2 separate regions of the Homo sapiens genome follow, and region 2 is linked to region 1. The links come from fine-mapping of genetic effects on gene expression. A gene starts in region 1. The other region holds a variant in brackets. All regions are shown on one strand. Distances are between the middles of the regions. Region 1 holds the start of ZNF432 (zinc finger protein 432). Region 2 overlaps ZNF615 (zinc finger protein 615).

Region 1 (5,388 bases):
CTGCCTTCAAGCACTTTTTAAACAAAGCACATCCTGCGCAGCCCTAAAACCATTAAACCTTCTGTCAACACAACACATGTCTCTGCAAGCACTGGGTTGGAGCTAGGGTTACAGATTAACAGCATCTCAAGGCAGAAGAATTTCTCTTAGTATAGAACAAAATGGAGTCTCTTTTGTCTACTTCTTTCTACATAGACAAGTTAACAGTCTGATCTCTCTTTCTTTTCCCCACAGCTGCCCTTATTATTTTTTCCTTCATTTCAACTTTGATGAATTCAAACAGGATACAATTTGGGGAATATATGCTTATAATTTGCACTTGAGCTATTCTGTCCGAGTATGCCCCAGGACATTTTATGGAAATACCATGCAGTGCAATTTCAGACTCTGAGCATCTAAAAACCTGCCTCAGTATGCATGAATATTCACTATATGATTATAGTTCTACATGCCTTTGTATGTATAAGATCCATGGCTTGCATTTGCCTTGATTTTTATGTGTGGTAAAAATAAAAATATAGCAAGTGTATACAAATATTAGGAAATGGGCCAGGTGTTGGAGCTCATTCCTGTAATCCCAGCACTTTCGGAGGCCAAGGCAGGTGGATCACATGAGTTCAGAAGTTTGAGACCAGCATGAACAACATGGTGAAACCATGTCTGTACTAAAAATACAAAAATTAGCTGGGTGTGGTGGTACACCTGTAATCCCAGCTATTTGGGAGGCTGAGGCAGAAGAATTGCTTGAACCCGGGAGACAGAGTTTGCAGTGAGCTGAGATTGCACCACTGCGCACCAACCTGGGTGACAGAGTGAGATGCAGTCTAAAAAAAAACTTATTAAAAAAATATATTATATATATGGAAATAAACAATAATTAGGAAATAAGAATTTCTTATTTGTGCTTAGAATACACAGTGAAGTAAACAGAAAAAAAGAACAACAACAAAAAAGAATACATAGTGAAGTAATTTGAAAAGATTAAATGTTAAGACAGGCATGGTGGCTTATGCCTGTAATCCTGGCACTTTGGAAGGTCGAGGTGGGAGGATTGCTTGAGCCCAAAAGTTCAAGACCAGCCTGGGCAACATGATGAAACATCATCTCCACAAAACATACAAATATCAGCTCTGTTATATATGAAATAAACAGAGTTTTCCAAAGATCTTTTATAAGATGGGAGAAAGGAGATGAAATAGAAGAGAGATTGACTTGGTCCTTCAGGATTGGAATCTGATAGATGGGACACTAGAGGAAGTTTAATGTAATCTTTTTGGCTATCTAGATCTAGTTTTTAGGCCCTGGCTAGAAGCCAGTTAGTTCCTCTTCTAGAATGGCCAATTAAGTCTACAATGCCGGCCACAGTGAGCTTGTGGTATTTAGCTTGCCCTAATCCTATCCCCATATCCTCAGCTTCAAGGTAGCCTTGAAAAGCAACCACCTTTTAACAACAGTAACAGTGAATATCTGCACCCTAGCAGAATATCTGCACTTGAGGAGGTAGAAATGGCTCTGAAAATGGCAGAAATGGCTCTGAAACACCCAAAAGCCTCCATCCCCACAGAATGTTCACTACTAAGCCTGCTTTGCAGCCTGCTGAATAGGTCTATTCTCATAGTATTTCTCTATTTGGCTTGACTTTATTTATGTGAACACTCCTACCCATAGGGCACTTGTCAAAAAACAATCAGCAGCAATTGTTTAACACTAGAGTGTTTAGGGGAGTGACAGTGTGTGTCTGCGTGATAGATGGAAGTAATAAGAGGGCACAGGGGAAAGGGGCCATACGCATAAGATGATGGAACAGAGAGCCTGGAGGGTGGGGTATAGAGAGTGTAGGGGAAGGGAGAAGGCAGACAGGTAAAAGGAAAAAGAATGTTAAGTGTTGTTCAGCCTCAAGACTGACATGATGAAAGTACCTTTATTGTGGTTTTTGTAAATTAGAATGCATGCTTTATTATTAAAAAAAACACAATTGAAAATGTTAAGGACCTTTTCCTCCTTGCTTCTTATAAGAAACCATCATAAGACATAACTTGTAATAATTCTGTAGAAATATACATATATAAAGATATATGTATATATATATTTTAAAATAGTATGTTTTTATTGCAAAATATTCATTAGTGTCATCATATCATAGCCAGATCTACAACCCCAGAGTAATTCCCATGGTTATGTTACATGGCAAAAAGGACTCTGCATTGTAATTAAGTTTATTAATCAGCTGACTTTAGCATTGGGAGATTATTCTGGATTGCCCAAGCACTTAAGAATAGGAGAAACCGGAGAGATGCAGCAGCAATAGTCAGTGGTTTCAAATATGAAAGGGATTTCACATACTATTGTTGGCTTTAAAGATAGGAAGTCGTGGGGGCAAGGAAACTCTCTAAAGGAAATTAATCTGGCAACAACCTAAATAATTCTAGAAAAGGATTCTTTTCCAGAGTCAAGAACAGAGCCAGGTGGTTCTTCTCTTCTAAAGACATTTCCATGGGCCAGTTCCACCGCAAGCTTCTCAGAGAGAATATGTTCTGCCGTACGGACACCGAACGTCCCCTAAGATGGCCGCCCCCATGATGCTCTCCCCTAAGGGCTCTGGCTCCGTTACCTGCAACGCACCGCTCGCTTATTTTTTGTTCTAGTCTCTCTTGCTTCAGTTTTTATACGGCTTCTAAAACGCTTCGCATTTACAATAGTGACTGAGGTGCCCAGAGGTGACTTTAATTTTCCATTGAGCTGAGACGTCACAGCCATCATAACCGCTAAGAAGGGATGCCGCGCCTTTGTGGTAATAATGGGTTCTGGCCTTTGAGAAGTTTGCGCCGTTCACTGTCCCCTGCGAGGAGAAGACTAACTTATTTCTGTTCCGTGTCTGTTCAGAGGACTTTACCCCCACGCCGTGTCTGCCTGTGTGAACTCAAGCCTCTGATAAGCTCTCCATTTTCTGCCAGGGCTGAGGTGTCTGGAAATCGGACAGTTTAAGAGGCCTCCGTCCACCGCGTCTCCCGGCCGCTGTGCCTTCTGTACGTCACGTACTCAAAGATGGCCGCCCCCAGAGCGGCGAGGCGACGCCGGCGCGGACGCGTCTCCTCCTGAGGAAAAGCCGGAAGGCCGCATTCCGCTCTCCATGGAAACGCGGCTGACCGTCTCTGGAGGTTTAGAGGGGGAGGGAGTTGGGCGAGGGGCCCAGAAGTGGAAGAAGTTTAGGGAAGTAAGTTCAGCTTTTAAGAGGTCGCGGCGATTCCAAGGAGAGTCAGGTCAGTGTGTGGGTCAGGGCGTGGAAACGTGGTGGGAGGGAGCTTTCTGAGGGCGTCTGCGTTGTTGGTGGCGCTATATGGTGGAGGTAGCGCGGGGGTTGGGGGAGGCGGGGGCGGGTGTTTCCTTTTGGAGGGGAGCTGGTAGGAGTCCCTGGTGGGTGTCTGTGATAGGATATCTTTGGGGTCCCTCATGGAGGCTCTGGTGGTCAGTGATTAAAGGCCTGAATAGATCAACGACCAAGAGTACTGAGGTCAGGGATTGTGGTCCTCGCGGGTCACTCCCCAGTGGGGCTCAGTGATTGAGAATCGATGGGGTGGCTTTTGTCAACGAATGTGACTTCTGTTTCACATTCTGGATTAATCTGAGGCTTAGTGATTGATGAATCATTAAGGGAATCCAGTGTACGTGTGTGTCTATTCCAGGTTTTCCTATTTTATCTGGCGGGGTGGTGGTCTTTTGTCTAGAGACAAGTGAAAGCCGAAGTCTTTTCACAAGAGCCCTGGCTGGTTTTGTGTGTGTGTGTGTGTGTGTGTGTGTGTGTGTGTGTGTGTGTGTGTGTGTGTGTTGAGCTCAAACTTTGGCTGGAACAGACTTGATGAACGTTAACATTTCCTAAAAGTTTCAGGTCCGAGTACCTCCTCCACAATGAGTTTTCTAATCCTCTGGCTTTCCACAACAACCCATGCTCTTGAACCTGCAGAAAATGAAAGTTTTTTGGGGGTGAAGGGGGGCGGATGAATAGGCTTTCTATTTAACATTATGTTTTTAAATTACTGCGCACAAATTAACAAGAGCCTATTTTTATCCTTCCTCTTGCAAATGTACTGCATATTTTTATGGGTGTTTCAGGTTTTGTATGTTAGTATATAAAGGCGGCTATTTTCCCAGTATTTATATTTTTGAATTGTTTTCTAAATTTGTATTTATAACTCGTATTCCTTTTCTCTGTCTCCCTCTTTTTTTCTATGTGTTTCTTGTTCTTCATATTGAAGTGTGTATATAAACATTTTTTTTTTTTTTTTGAGATGGAGTCTTGCTTTTGTCGCCCAGGCTTGAGTGCAATGGCTGGGCTCACTGCAAACTTCGCCTCCTGCGTTCAAGCCATTCTCCTGCCTCAGTCTCCGAGTAGCTGGGATTACAGGTGCCTGCCACCATGCCTGGCTAATTTTTTCTATTTTTAGTAGAGACAGTGTTTCACCATGTTGACAAGGCTGGTCTCGAACTCCTGACCTCAGGTGATCTGCCCATCTCGGCCTCCCAAAGTGCTGGGATTACAGGTGTAAGCCATCATGCCTGGCCGTATATAAACACTTTTAAATATATATAAAGACTTTTAAAGAGGTGTGAGAGTAACATTGTATAAAGGAAAAAATGTAGTTTCTCACCATCCATATGGCCTGATTTAAAAAACTGATATGAGAATTACCTACTGCTTAGGCATGATGCTATGTGGATTCTCCTTTGTGACCTCCCCTTTCATCTTCATGTTACTTCCACACTTCACCGAAGAAAGGCATTTGGCCTACATTGAGGGTCTTGTGTTTCCTTGGTTTGAGAGAACCAAATAAAGAGACAAATATTCAGGGCCACGTGTTAAGGTGAATGTACCCCTGAAAGTTGTTTTGCTCTTCAGTCCACAGGTCCTGGCTACCCTGGGAAGAGACAAGAAGTAAATGAAGAAAGAGGAAGATTCCAGGACCTAGATATGATTTCTGTGGACACCCTTCACTGGTGACTGAAGTTTCTAAATAGAAATTTAAGGCAGATCCAGAGGAGACAAAGACAGAGTATCCCAGGTGCTGGCCATTTCCCACAACAGAAGAAAATGATCAATGCCCAGGTGACTTTTTCTCTATTTTATTCTCTCCTTTATTCCATAGTGGATTTGTAGAGACCCGTAAGAAATCATTTCAGAATCTAGAGAGAAATAAACTTTAAATCTAACTCCAACATCATGGCAAAGTAAGATCAGGAATATAGTGTTTATGTGATTCCTACAAAATGACTGATGTTGGAAAATAATGCCTGACTAGAAGATCCTTTCCATTACCTTAGCTCTCAGTTTGCATCTGATGTCTCTGACAGCCAGTACAAGAAAGTCACACTAAGTTATACAGTGACTGTGGG
Region 2 (5,388 bases), 46 kb after region 1:
CATTCTAGACCCAAATTCTCAACTCTGCCATTGTAATGTGATAATAGCCTGAGATGAAATGTCATGGAATGCATGTAGCTGTGTTCTTATAAGACTTTATTTACAAAACAGGTGGTCCAGGTCCTGGATACTATATTACTGACTCTTGATTTAGGTGACCATATGGCTTTTCTGCACAAATTCACAGTTGGGCAACTAGAGCCCATGGACTAAATCTCCCAGCACCTGTTTCTGTTAATAAAGTTTTGTTGGGACCTGGCCACAATCATTTGTCTATTTTTTTGTATGTGGGCATTTTTGAGCTACAACAGTAGAGTTGAGTAGCTGCCACGGAAACCATAGACCTCTCTTTTAACATGGAAATAATTTTTTAAAAATTAGTTTTATTGCTGACACTATTGATTACAAACAACATATAAACTTATTTGTTAATGTTATGGTAATTAGTATTTTATACTCTTCTGCTATGCAGATATCTTAAAATACGTTTTCATTTGCCATCCTCCTACTTTATATGTTCTTTTTTGTTGTTGTTGTTTTGAGATAGAATCTCACTCTGTCACCCAGGCTGGAGTGCAATGGCACAATCTTGGCTCACTGCACCCTCCGCTTCCTGGGTTCAAGCAATTCTCCTGCCTCAGCCTCCTGAGTAGCTGGGATTATAGGCACGCGCTACCATGCCCAGCTAATTTTTGTATTTTTAGTAGAGACGGGGTTTCACCATGTTGGTCAGGCTGATCTCGAACTCCTGACCTCGTGATCTGCCCACCTCGGCCTCCCAAAGTGTTGGGATTACAGGCGTGAGCCACCGCACCCGGCCTATATGTTCTTATGGAATATTTTAACACTATATATATTAAAACTTCCTGATATATTATTATCAGTATTATTTTTCCAGTCAATACTGATTTAGGCTTTATTAATTACTTACCGTTTTGTTCCTCTTCAGACCTTGCTCCTCTGCTTACACTGGAGTCATCTTTCTTTTGCTTGAAGAATATCCGTTAGGATTTGCTGTAATATGTAATTCCTCAAGGATATTTTTGCTGAGTATCCTTTATACATTTATACTTAGAATACTTTGCAAGTATCAAGATGTGGATGGCGGCCGGGTGCAGTGGCTCATGCCTGTAGTCCCAGCACTTTGGGAGGCTGAGATGGGTGGATCAGTTGAGCTCAGGAGTTCAAGACCAGCCTGGCCAACATGGTGAAACCCCGTTTCTACTAAAAGTACAAAAATTAGCAGCGCATGTGGCGTTCACCTGTAATCCCAGCTTCTCAGGCGGCTGAAGCAGGAGAATCGCTTGAACCCAGGAGATGGAGGTTGCAGTGAACAGAGATCACGCCACTGGAGTCTTACTCACTCCAGCCTGGGCAACAGAGTGAGTGAAACTCAGTCTCAAAAAAAAAAGAAAAAAAGTCAAAGATGTGGATGGTAATGAATAATTTAAATAAGATAGTGCTTATTATTTGCTTAGGACAGTGTTCTCAGATTGCAGTATCCTAGAATGTAAAAAGACCTCTGAAAAGGTAGATGGGTACACATGGTTTTAAAGAAAAAATGTGTGCATCTTAACTGTCTATGTGACCTCTTTCCTAAAACTGGTCTGCCTGAGGATTGCCCAGCTGCTGGGCATCACGTTGTGACGATTCTTTTCCCCACATTCTCTTTCACTTACTAGCAGTAGTCATACCACGTCAACTTTATATAGAAGGGTGCTGTACCTCCCATATATTCAGAATGTTATATTTTACTAGCCCAGATATAAAAGCTTCTGGAGCACTAAATAAAAGAACAGAGAGATATTTGGGGGCCTTGATTTAAGGTGAGCATATAGGAACAGTGACAACATCTGGGCCTAAAAAGAATGTACCACTCAGAGTAATTTGCTCTTCAGCCCACAGGTGCTGAGAACAAGAGAAATCAAGTGAAGGAAGGAGGCGGAGTTTCCAAGACTTGGGTGTCATCATTTCTGGGGACATCCTTGATTGGAGATTGAAGTTTTTGAACCGAAATTTAGAGCTGATTCAGAAGAGACAAATACAGAACGTCCAAGTTAGCAGTCATTTCCCAAATTTAGGAGACAATGATGCAGGCCCAGGTGACTTTTGGTTTGTTTTATTCTTTCCTTTATTCTCCAATGTATTTTTAAAGTCCTGTAAAAATCAGGGTAATTAATCAGAAAAGTATAAATTGGAAATATCAGGACCTGGAGAAATCTGGGCAAAGAAGGATCAGGGATATATTATTCATAGGATTCATACTACATGATTCATGTTGGAATTTGTGACTGTGTGGGACCCCGTAGGTTACATTTGCTGTAAACTTGCCTCTAGTATCTCTGACAAGCTATACAAGAGAAACATGATAAGTTATATCAACTGTGAGAAAGCAGACCAGTTTCTTGAGGGATGTTAATGTTTCATGGCTTATAATTCTGAGGCTCAAATACATCTTTGATAGTTCTTCACGGAGGTGTTATGGTAGGTGGTGTTCTTAACTGTAGCCTTCTCATAAATGCAAAAGTAGATTTCTTTTAGCTGTTTCTTCATTGTATTTAATGTTATTAACGCTGTCTAATAACATACACATATATATGAATTTGTCTGTGTGCATACATGTGTCTGCATATATATTCTAAGGATTTTTTTTTCCAAATTTGCTTAATCATGGCCAGGCGCTGTGGCTCACACCTGTAATCCCAGCACTTTGGAAGGCCAAGGCGGGTGGATCACCTGAGGTCAGGAGTGTGAGACCAGCCTGGCCAACGTGGTGAAACCTCATCTCTACTAAAAATACAAAAATTAGCCAGGTGTGGTGGCGTGCGCCTGTAATCCCAGCTACTAGGGAGGCTGAGGCAGGAGAATTGCTTGAACCCGGGAGGCAGAAGTTGCAGTGAGCCGAGATTGTGCCACTGCACTCCAGCCTGGGCAACAGAGCAAGACTCCATCTCAAAAAAAAAAA[C/AC]AAGCAAGCAAAAAAACAGATTTGTTTAATCATCTAATAATCTTTGTGCTTTATACATGTTTTATATAGTCTCTTTTATTTCATTCAGAATAAAATAATAATATGGTTAACTATGTTAACCATAGTTATTTAGAATGCATTGTCTTGTGATACTAGCATCTGCCATGTCTTCATTACAGAGTTTGATATTGGCCTGAAAGCTCATAGTGAATTTAAGAATCTGAATTATTCGTCTACTTGTAACTGGCATATACTTATGACTAGTTTGGTATTGGGAAATAGATGCTACATGTTATAGATGTTCTTTCATTAGCAAGAGGATTGGATAGCTGTGTATTACAGACATTTCTTTGACTTTTCAACATTGTTGAATGAATGGATGACCGCACAGTTACAGAATATTTTACTGGAATTCTTATTCTGTCAAAATGTACTAAGAAAAAAACCCCACCAGCTTCCTATGTGGTGAAAATGAGCGGAATGACTTCCTTGACATTCTTTTCCTATCACCAAAAGAATATGACTTCATTAAACAGAAGTGTGTTATTACAGGAATCCCTAACACTGGAGGATGTGGCTGTGGACTTCACCTGGGAGGAGTGGCAGTTCCTGAGCCCTGCTCAGAAGGACCTGTACCGGGACGTGATGTTGGAGAACTACAGCAACCTGGTGGCAGTGGGTGAGGACAGCTGCCCTGTGTCACTCAGAGGGTGCCCAGTCAGTGGCCTTCCTTTCTCAGCTGCTTACCTGCAGTACTCTGAAGTGGTAGATTCTCACATCATTCTCTTGCCCCACACAAGAGAGTATAATCTACCTTCTTGTTACAGATCTGATACCTATGTAGTCCTTAAAATGTAACTCTCCTTTTTCAATATTGCCAGCCCCGTTTGATTTGTCTAAATCTTCTGTCATTTCCCATGAACAGGGTATCAAGCCAGCAAACCAGATGCACTCTCCAAATTGGAACGAGGAGAAGAAACTTGCACAACAGAAGATGAAATCTACTCTCGAATCTGTTCTGGTGAGTGAGAGGAGCAGCCAGGTGGACAGCCACAGACACCATGTTCTGCCCACACAGAGCAGGCGTCAAAGCAGTGAGGGCATCTGAGGACACAGCAACAGCCCCTCCATCACTCCTTCTTCCCAAGGAAGAGCTCTTTTTTGTTATAGTATGGAAAATATGCCCCACTTTCTTTTCTTTTTTTTTTTTTTTTTTTGAGATGGAGTCTTGCTCTGTCACCAGGCTGGAGAGCAGTAGCGCAATCTTGGCTCACTGCAACCTCCGCCTCCCGGGTTCAAGGGATTCTCCTGCCTCAGCCTCCTGAGTAGCTGGGACTACAGGTGCGTACCACCACGCCCAGCTAATTTTTGTATTTTTAGTAGAAACGGGGTTTCACCATATTGGCCAGGATGGTCTTGATCTCTTGACCTTGTGATCTGCCCACCTTGGCCTCCCAAAGTGCTGAGATTACAGGCTTGAGCCACTGCGCCCGGCCCCCACTTTTTTTCCTTGAGATTTCATCTTTGTTTATTTTATGCACATCTTGTTTTTGTCTACATAATTATCTTCTTAGGATTTTCAAATCTGCCTTTTCTTGTCCACTGTCACAGTGTCTCTGCTTGTGTATTACCTCTCTTGCTATGAAATTCCATTTTCCAGGCCTCTCCGGAAAGAGAGACCTTTGAACTCATTACTTTTTTCTGACTACTGCATCTTCCTGCCCTAGTAGGAAAATAATAATTTTCCTTCATTATTCCCACTCTGGGAATCATTATTTTCCCTCATTTTCTCCACTCTGGATGCTGTGCCCATGATAACCTGGTCTCTGATTGGCATTTATGTGTTTCTTAAGTTCTCTTATTCCTCTTATACTGAATCCTGAGTTTCTCCATACTTTTTTTTTTTGGAAAGAAGGTCTCATCTGTCACCCAGGCTCACTGTAGCCTTGACCTCCTCGGCTCAAGCGATCCTCCCACCTCAGCCTCTTAAGTGGCTGGGACTACAGGCACACATCACCATGCTCAGCTGATTTTTGTATTTCTTATAGAGGTGGGGTTTTGTCATGTTGCCTAGGCTGGTCTTGAACTCCTTGGCTCAAGTAATCTGTCAGCCTTGGCCTCCCAAAGTGCTGGGATTACAGCGTGAGCCTCCGTGCCCAGCCCATCCTTCTTCCATTTTCTTTACTGTTCTCATAACTTTTAAAAGTTTTTTTCATTCCCGTGAATTAACTCTTCATTCTCTGGAAGAGACTACCAAATTAACTTCTGCCTTAATATTATCTAATGTATACTTTATTTCCATGTATTTTACTTGTCTTCATGACAACTAGCCTGTAACTTCCCATTTTGTGTATGAGGAACAAGAATCATCTTCCCTCTAAGAATAATGCTTTTGGCTATCCTTATATAATTTTATTTTTTTA

What was found. PIP is the estimated chance that this variant, and not a neighbour inherited with it, causes the effect.
Region 2: its variant is the best candidate, but not a certain one, in a credible set for the expression of ZNF432 in whole blood (INTERVAL, PIP 0.83).

What each region holds. Positions count from the first base shown.
Region 1 is chr19:52,046,567-52,051,954 of GRCh38, reverse strand. ZNF432 (zinc finger protein 432) reads left to right here and starts at 3,117. Exons shown (of 5, transcript NM_014650.4): 1 at 3,117-3,260; 2 at 4,895-5,101. The coding sequence starts at 5,087. RefSeq lists an enhancer at 2,745-3,334.
Region 2 is chr19:52,000,411-52,005,798 of GRCh38, reverse strand. It overlaps ZNF615 (zinc finger protein 615), which reads left to right. Exons shown (of 7, transcript NM_001199324.2): 3 at 1,899-2,102; 4 at 3,518-3,644; 5 at 3,891-3,986. The coding sequence starts at 2,088. Among named protein-coding and RNA genes, the nearest start is that of ZNF615, 5.1 kb to the left of the region's middle. The variant C/AC (reference allele first, on the strand shown) is at 2,966.